Homo sapiens: one gene and its partners. The gene in region 3 interacts genetically with the main gene of each other region. Each region holds a gene or a part of one and is shown on either strand. Other genes may lie near its edges.

Region 1 (3,690 bases), about 17 Mb from region 3:
AAAGTATATATTTCTACATACTGTTGTACATAAAACTGTGTATGCTGTACTTTTAATGGCAAAGGGATTTTTCAGAGGATAATGTCTATTATGAGATCTCCTTACTTACCAAATTCTGAGTCATTATAATCTTTGTGGAAACTTTGACTCCACTATATTTATGCAAAATGCATTTTGTTAAAATCTAGGCAAAAGAGACTAAAACTCCAGAGGACTGAATTTATTTTAAAAATATGATAAACAGGTAAAAAACTTTGCATTTAGGATACCAGGATCTTTGCACTTGTCATATTCTAGTACAGATCTTTTAGGCTAGAAATGTCAACTAGATCACTTTCTAGGCCCAAAGAAAGAACATTCATATTTGCCTTTTCGTCAGGAGGCGACTAAGAAACACTACTAGGATATTTAGACTGAGATGCAGCATTATCAGACTGGTTGTGCAATAGGCTCCCCGGTTCACACTGCGTGGTCAGTTGCCTATCCTCCTCAGATTGGGAGCTTTATATAGGCAGACTATGCCTGCCTTGCTCACTGCTTTCTCCTTAGAACGAGTCCCATGCCTGGCACACAGAACACACAAATATTTGAATAAAGTGAATGAGTCTTAGTATATGCTTTTAGAATTATTTATTCAAAAACACTTTATAATAAATTCAGGTAACAGTAAAGTAATACATTCAATAGTACTAAAATCTATAGAAAATAGATAATTTCATTAAGGTGCAATTAAAATACTTGAAATTGGGACACATCTCTATATTTCAAACCAATATACTGGCTTTCTTTTTAAAAGACTATTCTAGTCTTTACGCTGTCCAAAGTTTTTCCTCTTTGCTTTTATTTGCTTTAGACCATATTTAAATTTTTAGCATTCCTAAGTGCATACATTTTAGGCATATACTATAATGACCAAGAGTTTGTGAACCTACTGATTAGGTAAACACTTTGGGGAGGTATGACCTGCACAAAGTAGGGTGGGAAAGCTATTATCTCCCTTAATCTGGACACAACTGTTCAAGCAGTCTATAATTTATTAGCTTCTCTGATAGCTTCACTATTTGGTTTTCATTGACCTTTTGAGCAACTGACTGGCAAACCCCAGATTCTTTTCGCCTGAAATCTTTTCAAGTTAGATACTGTCCATATTACACTTGTACTTATAATTTACTATCTTCTTGCCTTGGACAACTTATTTCTCCAAATTCTGATTTCTCCAGCAGTGTATTGGGATAGTATCACTAATCTTGCAAAGTAAAGATCAGAAATGCTGTACATAATATGGGTCAGTGACTTAGCATACAACAACTATTCTATGATTAATATTTTCAAAATCTAACTACTCCTCATTTGTCCTTGGCAGTTTTCTATCTTAGTCATTTGCAGAAAGAGTTCCAGCTTGCCAAAACCTTTTTTTTTTTTTTTTTGAGGCAGAGTCTTGCTCTGTCGCCAAGGCTGGAATACAATGGCAACCCTGTCTCTACTAAAATTACAAAAAAAAAATCTTTTATAATCTTAATTCTGTCATCTGTGAATTAGTTATTTCTCCTAGGCTTGTGATCTGTATGTAAATTTGATAAACTTTTCAAAGCCATTGATTAGAATACTTGAACAGAACAGGAGCCTCATAGCATACCATGCAAGGCTAAAGAGTAGATTAATGATGTTATTCAAAGCTCTCTGGATGCAACAACTAGCAAGAATTAGCTACAAATTCATTTATCTATACTATTATCTAGTTGATAATTTCTAATTTCACCCATGAAGATTTCAGGGCTTTCTTAAAGACATTTTAAGTTTACTGCATTTCCTTGATTTACTATAGTAATAAAACTACCAATATATACCAAATATTCATTTAGGCAGCTTGTAAGAAAAAGATACACCAAGGTAAGTTTGTAATTTGAAATGCAAAGTAATATTCTGAACAGTTCTCCAGAAGTCAAACCAAGAAATTTATAGTCCAAAAAGTTCTGGAGATTGGTTTTAGGGGAGGGGAAGGTGAGGAGATCAAATATGAATGAGTGCCTGCCATTGGCAATAAAAAGAAATGCCAACTCTTCATAAGAAAAAAATTTATATAACCTTCAAGGTCCAAATACGAGGAGAAAGCTCAATCACCCATTTGTTAATCTCCGCAGCTGGGATGAACATTTTCCTAAGGATGGAGAAGAGATTATACTCACTAATACACGAGTCAGTAGTTTTACTTTCAGGTGGCTTTTTATCTGATGTTTATCTTATATGATGACAGCTGGGGGACAGAGAAATGTTCCACTTCTACCTATGTATCAAACTAGATACCTAAGCCCTTCCCTTCCAACAGAACACAGAGAAATGCTGGATAAAATGTAGAAAACATTCTTTTAAATACATAGCAGAACTTACAAGAAAGGGGAAATCCTTACGGTCAAAAATGAGGGGAATGAGGCCGGGCGCGGTGGCTCACACCTGTAATCCCAGCACTTTGGGAGGCCGAGGAGGGTGGATCACGAGGTCAAGCGATCGAGACCATCCTGGCTAACACGGTGAAACTCCGTCTCTAATAAAAATACAAAAAATTAGCCGGGCGTGTTGGCACACGCCTGTAGTCCCAGCTACTCGGGAGGCTGAGGCAGGAGAATTGCTTGAACCCAGGAGGCAGAGGTTTCAGTGAGCTGAGATCATGCCACTGCACTCCAGCCTGGGTGACAGAGCAAGACTCTGTCTCAGAAAAAAATGAGGGGAATGAAAAACCAGAGAGGTGAATATGTGAGCTGATGCTGTAGCTGTCCTGGAACAATTTGCCAGTCTCATTAACCCACGGCTTTTAGCTTAGACATCTATATGGGGAGCAAAGAACCCAGGGCTTGCCAAAGGCAGGCAGTGGGAATTAAATGTACCTCCTTCCACCCCTGCCATAAAGGTGGGACACATGGAAGCTTATACTCTCAGTGAAAAAGGCATCAATCAAATATTCTGCCCACTAGCACAAGGAGATGAGGAGGAAGTGTGTTTGCCTTGGCCTGGGAAATCTCCTATCAGTATTTATGCTACACTTCAGGTATGGAAACCCTAAAGCCAAGAAATTAAAATAAGAATGGGCTTGTGTGCAGCAACAGCCCTGGGAATATGACATAAACAGACACTCAAGATTCCCATAGATAAAGCCTTGCTGAAAATAAACTCACTTTTCAAAAAGACAAAACTGGATGAACAGCCTATCAAATACAAAAATCAACAGATATAAACAGCAGGAACTAAATTTAATAGAACTATTACAGTGTCTATCAAGTACAGACATTTAAAATAATTAGTGACATAAAAAACATTAAAAAAACATTAAAAATGACATCAAGAAACAGAGATCTGAAAAATGATGCATAATTAGAAATGAAAAACAATTTCTGAAAGAAGAAGCCCAATGGATAGGGTAAAAGAGATTATATACATCTGACAAGAGAATTCATGAACTAGAAGGCAATCTATGAAGTTATCACAGAAAGATAACATACATGGACAGTACAGAAGGGCTTAAAAGATAAAGAGAATAGAATGAGAAGTTTTAATACACACTTAAAAAAATAGTAACTACACTAACTGTGTCTTTGAAATTTGTTCTCCATAACAACTTCATTATTTAGTAACACTGAGTGATCTTACTAGGAAAAATCCAAATACGTTTCTGTTTTTTTTTTTTTTTTTTTGAGA
Region 2 (3,654 bases), on a different chromosome or scaffold from region 3:
TAATTTTTTGTATTTTTAGTAGAGACGGGGTTTCACCGTGTTAGCCAGGATGGTCTCCATCTCCTGACCTCGTGATCTGCCTGCTTCAGCCTCCCAAAGTGCTGGGATTACAGGCGTGAGCCACCGCGCCCGGCTTTATTTATTTTTGAGATGGAGTTTTGCCCTGTCGCCCAGACTGGAGTGCAGTGGCGTGATCTTGGCTCACTTGAACCTCTCGGGTTCAAGTGATTCTCCTGCCTCAGCCTCCCAAGGCATGTGGCTGAAGCTCTGCGCAGGGCAGGTGCCCAGTGAACGAGGCAGAGGCAGGGAAGAGAGAAGGTGGTTAAGGCAGGACCATACAAAAGGAAGTGGACCAAGTTCCTGAGGAACCACCACCTCCCTGCCATCCCCACTCACACGAAGATATCATCACGGTCCAAGATGCTGCTCAGAGGCTCCTCTAGCTGATAGAGCTTATAGAAGCGGTGACTGAAGACATCAGCCACCATCATCTAGGAATGGGATATGGAGAGGGGACTGTTAGTCTGCACGGCCTCCCAGGCCCTTCTGCCTCCTTGCCCTGGAATCCCATCCAGCCTCCTTCTGCAGTCTCACCCTCTCTGGCGAGATGCCCGTGTGTTTGGACAGAGCCACACATAGATCCGAGATCTTGCCTTTCTTGGGGACCACGAGCCGGTGCTAAGGGAAAAACGGTATCCACAAAAGACCAAAAGGGCTTGTGGTGAGTTAATGCAAGAAGCCTTGAGCTATGGCAGCTAATCAAACTCTATGTGTCCATCATCATCTCCCCAGGCCCCCACTGCCCCACACCTGCTCTGGCTTGCGGCGCGGATCCATGGGGATAAAGAAGACCTCCAAGACCCTCTTGTGGCTGATAGGCAGTGGAACACTGAGGTAGCAGAAGGGGTCGAAGGTCACAGATACATTGCCACAATCGGGGCACACCAGCGTGGACTTGAAGAGGCCGTGGAAAGTGTCCACGATCACAGAATCGTTCCGCCGTTTGTGGTTTTGCCATGCCTCCTGTGCCACCTCCTGTTGATAGTGTCATGGTGGGTGGTGGGGCTTGCCCAGGGTAAGAGGAAACCATGGCTTGGGGTGCATTCAAATGGGGTGAAGCGGAAGGCCACTGCTAAAGTCCAGAGGCAGAGCTCCAGCTAGGGATACACAGAGACTATGTTCACGGTCAAGACTGGGGGTCATTTAGGGCAGGAGACTGCGCTGGGGTTTACTCTGGGTTGACTGTGGGGGCAGATATGGTATTGCAACTAAGGTTAAGAGTAAGGCTGGAGTTGAGGTCAGGTAGAGAAACTTAACAGAAAATGGTGGCGTGTTAGATACCCCAGGGAGGCCAGAAAATCCCCGAGGCAGAGGCCTTGGTGATGTTAATTGGACTGCAAATGCGGGGGCAGCCTACCTGATCCGGTCGCCCAGCAGCATCGCACAGCTCCACATACTCCTTCTTCTTCACCCGATTAAGGTCCTCATGCAGCCCGTCCAGGAGGAATGACAGCAGCTCCTGAGAGTCATGCTGCTGGTAGCCCAGAAATTGGGATGCAAAATGGCCAACCTTGTTCTAAGAAGATGGGCAGGGTCATCAGAGAGAGAGGGAGTTAGGAGAGCCAAGAGACGTAGGGGGTCGGGGGTGCCCAGGGTTGAGTCACACCTTGAACACATGTGGCACAATGGAGCGGTGGTGGCCAGACCACGCCTGCTTCACCAGGTCTGCATAGGCCTCTGCGATCTCACCCTTCATGCCCAGTGGGTTGCGGAAGTTGAGCTCCTCCAGGTAGCAGTTGTTGAGGAAGTACTCGGTGAGCTGTGGCACATTGCTGAGGCACTGCAGAGGCCAGAGACCAGGTGAATGAGGCAGAGGGGAGACAGAAGGTTCAAAGTGAGGATACACAAAAAGAAGCCAGGAGGAAAGAGAGAGGAAAACAAGAGAGAAGGGGAAGGGAGGAGAGAGAGGAGCAGGAGAGTAGGGGAGAGAAGGCATTAGGATTTCACGAGAAGGAAGAACGTGGGAACAGGGAAGAGAAGAGGGAAAATGAGGGCAAGCTGAGAGAAGAGGCTGATAGTTCAGGAATGAACGTGGGCGTGCCACTTCAGACTTGTGGGGCCTCAGCTTTCATCCTGACCCCTTGCCCTGTAGTCCCCTCAGGACCCCAGCTCTGTCCCCAATCCTCAGCTCTTGAAGCCCAACCACGTGGCTGTGCCAGACACAACTATAATGGCCCAACCTGCAGGGCCGAGTTCATGAAGCACGTGTTGCCCAGATTGGTGAGGCCACAGATGCCTGGCTGACCCTTGAAGTCCTCATCCTCTTCCGACATGTTGTTGTTCCTGGGGTTAGATGAGAAACTGTCAGCTGAGGGCCTGCTGCATGGGGGTGCAATGTGCTCATGGGCTAAATCATTTTGCCTACTGTGGGACGCCCCCGCTCTGGACCAGATACCCCAAGGGCTCACATGACATGCAGCTGTGCGCTGGGCCAAGTGCCATCTTTCTTGCGGGTCTCCATGATGATCAACTGGGTTGGAGAAAGAGAAAGAAGGAAAGGTATTAATGGAGGACATTATGGGTACCTAGCCTTCATTTCCCCCGAGTACTGCCAGGTGAGTCTATCTGCCAGTCCACCTGAACAGAAAAGCCCTCCCCACCCTTACCTGCCCAGTCTCAAGGGCCGCATCGAGAACCGTGATGTGTGTGTCATACAACCTATCCAAAGAGCCTTCTGAGTTCTTGGCCCAAAGCCGAGTGTCTTCCTGGGGCTCCACCAGAAACCGCTCCCGAGCTGTGCGCAATACTAGGCCTGTGCGGGGTGATGGAGTACATTCAAGATCTTTGTGAGACCCAAAATGATCAATCCATCTGGGCATACCTGACTCATCCCTACGGACCTCACATGCTTGGCCAATACCTGTGTCCTCAATCAGTCTCCAAATGACTGGCCCACACTCCAGACTGGAGATCTCCAGCAAATATCCTCTGCCACACCACGTAAGCCACTAGAATGTAGCTCACATACCCTCAGGGCTCTAGTAGATCCCCTCAGTGCCTCCACCCAACTTAGCCAATGCCTTCTGGGTCTTCCAAAGTCTGACCAGTGCCTTCTCAGTCAGCTTCAGCTTAACCCTATGCAACCTCAAGTCACTGAGTTGGGACTAGTAGCTAGGAACACCAACCCATTGCGTGACCCTTAGACTCACCAATAGAATCGGTATGGCTGAACTGAACAGTGTGAGATTTGCCCAAATCATTGTGCCGGACAAGCAGCAGTTCTACTGGGTACACTTCGACCTTCTGGATGTTGGGCAGCTCTATGACCTGTAAGAGTAGAGGGGTGCAGACACAGGTGTACTCACACAGACACAGCGCTGTGACCTCTCAAATGAGAGGAGCACACACTCTGCCTTACAAACATAGCATACAAACACACATATACAATGGTCTGTAAAGAGAGCCACACAGGGGAACACACACAGCAGACAAAGATACCTGTATGATGAGCTAGGAGGGGGAAGAGAGCAGACATATGTGTACCTACCCAGCATACATGGATCTGTACCCATGCTGGGCCTACAAGGCTTTCTTACTACGCACTCCCCGCCATGCACCCTCCCCATCCATTATACCTTGCGTTCAATGGGTGGC
Region 3 (3,654 bases):
ACATCAAGAGTCATTTTGCAGACTGTGATAGTACGGCAGAAATTTTAATTTGGGGTTCAAAAGTTAGAGGGGAGAGACATAAAGGAAGATGGGAGAAAGTGACAATGAAGAATAAGGAGGACACCTGTACCATGTCCAGATCAAAGGACATGAGGGTATGGGAAAGAAAACACCTACCGCTTCAGAGGAAGCAGTGTCCTCAGGGGAGAATTGGACTTTAAGTTAGGACAAGGAGGAAGAAACATGCAGAGAGGTATTAAAGAAGAGTGAATGTTTAAACATTAACTCTTTTCTATCCATGAGGACAGAGTTAAACATTAATAACTCTCTGAATGTTTTTCATTCATCATCTCTAGTCATTGTCCTCTCTCCTTCCATTCACAGCCTAACAGTCCTATCAATACTAGTTCTTAAATTTCTTTGGAATCATCTCATTTCTCCAATACCATTGCCCTAACCTATTCCAAGCCACCAGCCTCCCACTTCTAGACAACTAGCAGAAAAACCTACAGCACCCTGAATCTTTCCCTATTCATAAAAAACAATGGAAAAAAAATAAGGAAGTCAGAGAAATATTTTTAAACCGAAGATATGACTATGTCATAGTCTTGCTTAAAATCTCTCAGAGGTCTCCCCAGTGGTCTTAAGTTAAAGCCCAAAATCCTTAACATGGCTTACAAGGTCTTCTTCCACAAATTGGCCACTAGCGACCTCTCTGGCCTCATCTCAAACCTGTCTTCCTCTCCCACTTCCCTGTTCACTCACTCAACAAATATTTAATGAGTGCCTATGGTGCACCATATACTGTGCTAAAGCACTGATGATACAATGATGAACACAACAGACACGGCTTGTGCCATACTGATCTTTCAAGTTTCTCAAAAGCATCAGACTTTCTAAAATCTAAGATTTTTCAAATACTGCTTCCCCTGTTCAGAATCAAATCTGCCACTTACTTTGCCTGCCTAGCTTCCCTTTAATCTTCAAATCTTAGATTTAATGTAATTTCTTCAGGAAGAAAAGTCTTCCCTGTCCCTTAGACTTGGTCAAACACTTAGCTATAGTACCCTGACTTTCCCCTTTATAATTATTAATAAACAAAATTATTTCTGTATTTTTTTCTACTGGACATTATAATCTCCATGAGGACAGAGATCATAGCTATCATGTGTTGTTGACTTGTGATAATAACTTTGCAATTACCTTTTCTTCCACAGAAAAACAAACAAACTTGTAGTTTAAGGATATTACCTTTCTTGAGGGGTTTGTTGTACCATCTATCTTTTTTGATGTCTGGAATGGTAATTCTTGCTGATGGATTCTCAACTAAGATTTTATGCAGCAGAGCTAAAAACAAACATTACGACAACATTCACGAAAGAATCATGTTAGAGAAGCCTATGGCTTGAGGTAAGAAACACATTTTCTGTTAGCCTACTTATGTCTAAATATTATTCCTGGGGAAGAGAAAGAATTAAAGCTACTAAATTACTGCTTTAATTTCATGCAGTTTTTCTCTGCTGCTGTATCTTGGAGTAGTCTTCCCTGATCTGATTCTCAATTGTTTGCAACTGAGAACAAGAGCCAGATGGAAATGTTTCTCCTCATGTGACGAGATTAACAAAAAGATACAGAAACCCCTCTTATCCATTTTCAATACCGAATTTCATTACTTCAATGTCATGTTCTCACGTGACCTCCTTATTCACACAGTTTTATAATGAACATTTACTTACCAATAACTTTTTAAGAGACAGTAATCTAACTAACCATCCTAAGGTATCTTAATTTTCTTGAGAAAAAATTCACGTATCTTCCTATGTGAAGATTATTTCCTAATGGACCAAAGATTTAAATGGAAAAATGAAGCCATAAAAACACTAAATGAAAACATAGGGAACTTTTAAATAGTAGAGGTAGAAGACCTTTCCAAAGAAATTATAGTCAGGGACCACAAAGGACAAGATAATAGATTTGAATGTCAATATAGCAAAACAAAATGAAAATAAATGATAAATTGTGAAAAGTATTTGTAACAAGTGCAAAGGTCAATGTGTTATCAAGGAAAAAAAAAAGCTTCAAAGTGGTAAGAAAAACAATATCCTTGACAAAAATGAGCAAAATAGACAAAAAACTAATACATACATAAAGGGTATACAACTTCATTAGTATTAAATTTAAAATAAAAATGAAAAACTATTATTTAAAGTTTTTTTCCTTAATGTAAATTGATGAGACTGTGATGAAATGGTTCGAACTTTCGGGAAGCAATTTGACAAAATAAGCCATAATAATAAAAACTACATCCTTGATCCTGCAATTTTGCTTCTGGGGATTTCAATGAACAATTTAAGGGTATGTGTCATGATTAAGTTACACAGATACTTATATCTCTTTTGTATCTGTGAAAATTTAGAAAAATCTCCAACAAAGTGATTAAAAGAGTAAAGTAAGGCATATCCACATGGCAGAATATTATCACAGCCTTTAAACCAACGATGTAGACCTACAATTATAGTCATGGAAGAATGTTCGCTGCGCACTAAAACCAAAAACAGTTACAAAATATTATTAGTGTGATCTCATTTTGTATAAAAACACATATAAATAATATACATATATTCATTTTACATACTTATGGGCCACATTAATGATGTTTCAGTCAGGAATGGACCACACGTATAACAGACAGTCCCATTAGATTATAATACTGTATTTTTACTATACTTTTTCTATACTTAGATACACAAATACCATTATGTTACAATTCCTTACAGTGCTCAGTATAGTAACATGCTGTACAGGTTTGCAGCCTGAGATCAATAGGGTATACCAAATAGCCTAGATTTATAGTAAGCTATACTATCTAGATTTATGTAAATATACTCTATGATGTTCACACAATGATGAAACCACCTAATGAAACATTTGTTAGAGTGCATCCCTATAATTAAGCAACAAACGAGTGTATTTGCAACAAAGTATAGCACATATGAAAACTTTAAGTAAAAAGCCATCTAAGAGCAGATTCAAGTTGCTCTGAATATACACTCCCCAAAATATTTTTAAAAATCTATTGCAGAGTTCTGGGACTAAAGAGTTATTTTTTCCTTAATTTTTTACTTATAGTTACTATTTTATCTACAACGAACATGAATTATTTGTAAGTTTAAAACAAAAAAAAAAGTAAGAAAAAATTCAAATAGCACAAGACTTCATATCCAAGAAATCGGTACTCTTTCACTCAAGATAATTCAGTTACCTAGAGGAGCAGAATCGATTTTTTTCCAAGGGTTGAGGTATGTTTTTTTTTCTTTCCAGTCAGAATACTCCTGACAGCTGTCACTGGGTTGGTCCCATGGCAATTCTAAAAACAAAGCAAGTCCCAGTTTTTTTAAATGTTCTTATTATAAAGATTTCAAGGAAAAATAATAATATAAATCCATGAAAAGTTTCCTTTGAATTAATTCAATATGGTTTTCACACTAAGAATCCCAACTTGGAAACTTTAGAGGCACTTCAAAGATAGATGAATCAGGATAGGCATGGCAGCTCAGGCCTGTAATCACAGCACTTTGGGAGGCTGAGGCAGAAGGACTGCTTGAGCCCAGGAGTTCAAGACCAGCCTGGGCAACATAGTGAGACCCCATCTCT

Evidence for each region.
Region 1: changes in CHEK1 (region 3) and ATM together harm fitness more than expected from each alone (negative genetic interaction), as found in Homo sapiens cells (one large-scale study listed by BioGRID).
Region 2: changes in CHEK1 (region 3) and USP11 are lethal when combined (synthetic lethality), as found in Homo sapiens cells (one large-scale study listed by BioGRID).

What each region holds. Positions count from the first base shown.
Region 1 is NC_000011.10:108,366,026-108,369,715, reverse strand, and holds the end of ATM (serine-protein kinase ATM), read right to left. Parts: 3' UTR 614-3,690; downstream 1-613.
Region 2 is NC_000023.11:47,239,463-47,243,116, reverse strand, and holds part of USP11 (ubiquitin carboxyl-terminal hydrolase 11), read right to left. Parts: coding exon 3,636-3,654; intron 3,328-3,635; coding exon 3,210-3,327; intron 2,813-3,209; coding exon 2,667-2,812; intron 2,531-2,666; coding exon 2,469-2,530; intron 2,344-2,468; coding exon 2,241-2,343; intron 1,841-2,240; coding exon 1,667-1,840; intron 1,577-1,666; coding exon 1,418-1,576; intron 1,036-1,417; coding exon 811-1,035; intron 679-810; coding exon 595-678; intron 492-594; coding exon 397-491; intron 1-396.
Region 3 is NC_000011.10:125,635,142-125,638,795, reverse strand, and holds part of CHEK1 (serine/threonine-protein kinase Chk1), read right to left. Parts: intron 3,368-3,654; coding exon 3,263-3,367; intron 1,348-3,262; coding exon 1,252-1,347; intron 1-1,251. UniProt on the Homo sapiens protein: Serine/threonine-protein kinase which is required for checkpoint-mediated cell cycle arrest and activation of DNA repair in response to the presence of DNA damage or unreplicated DNA.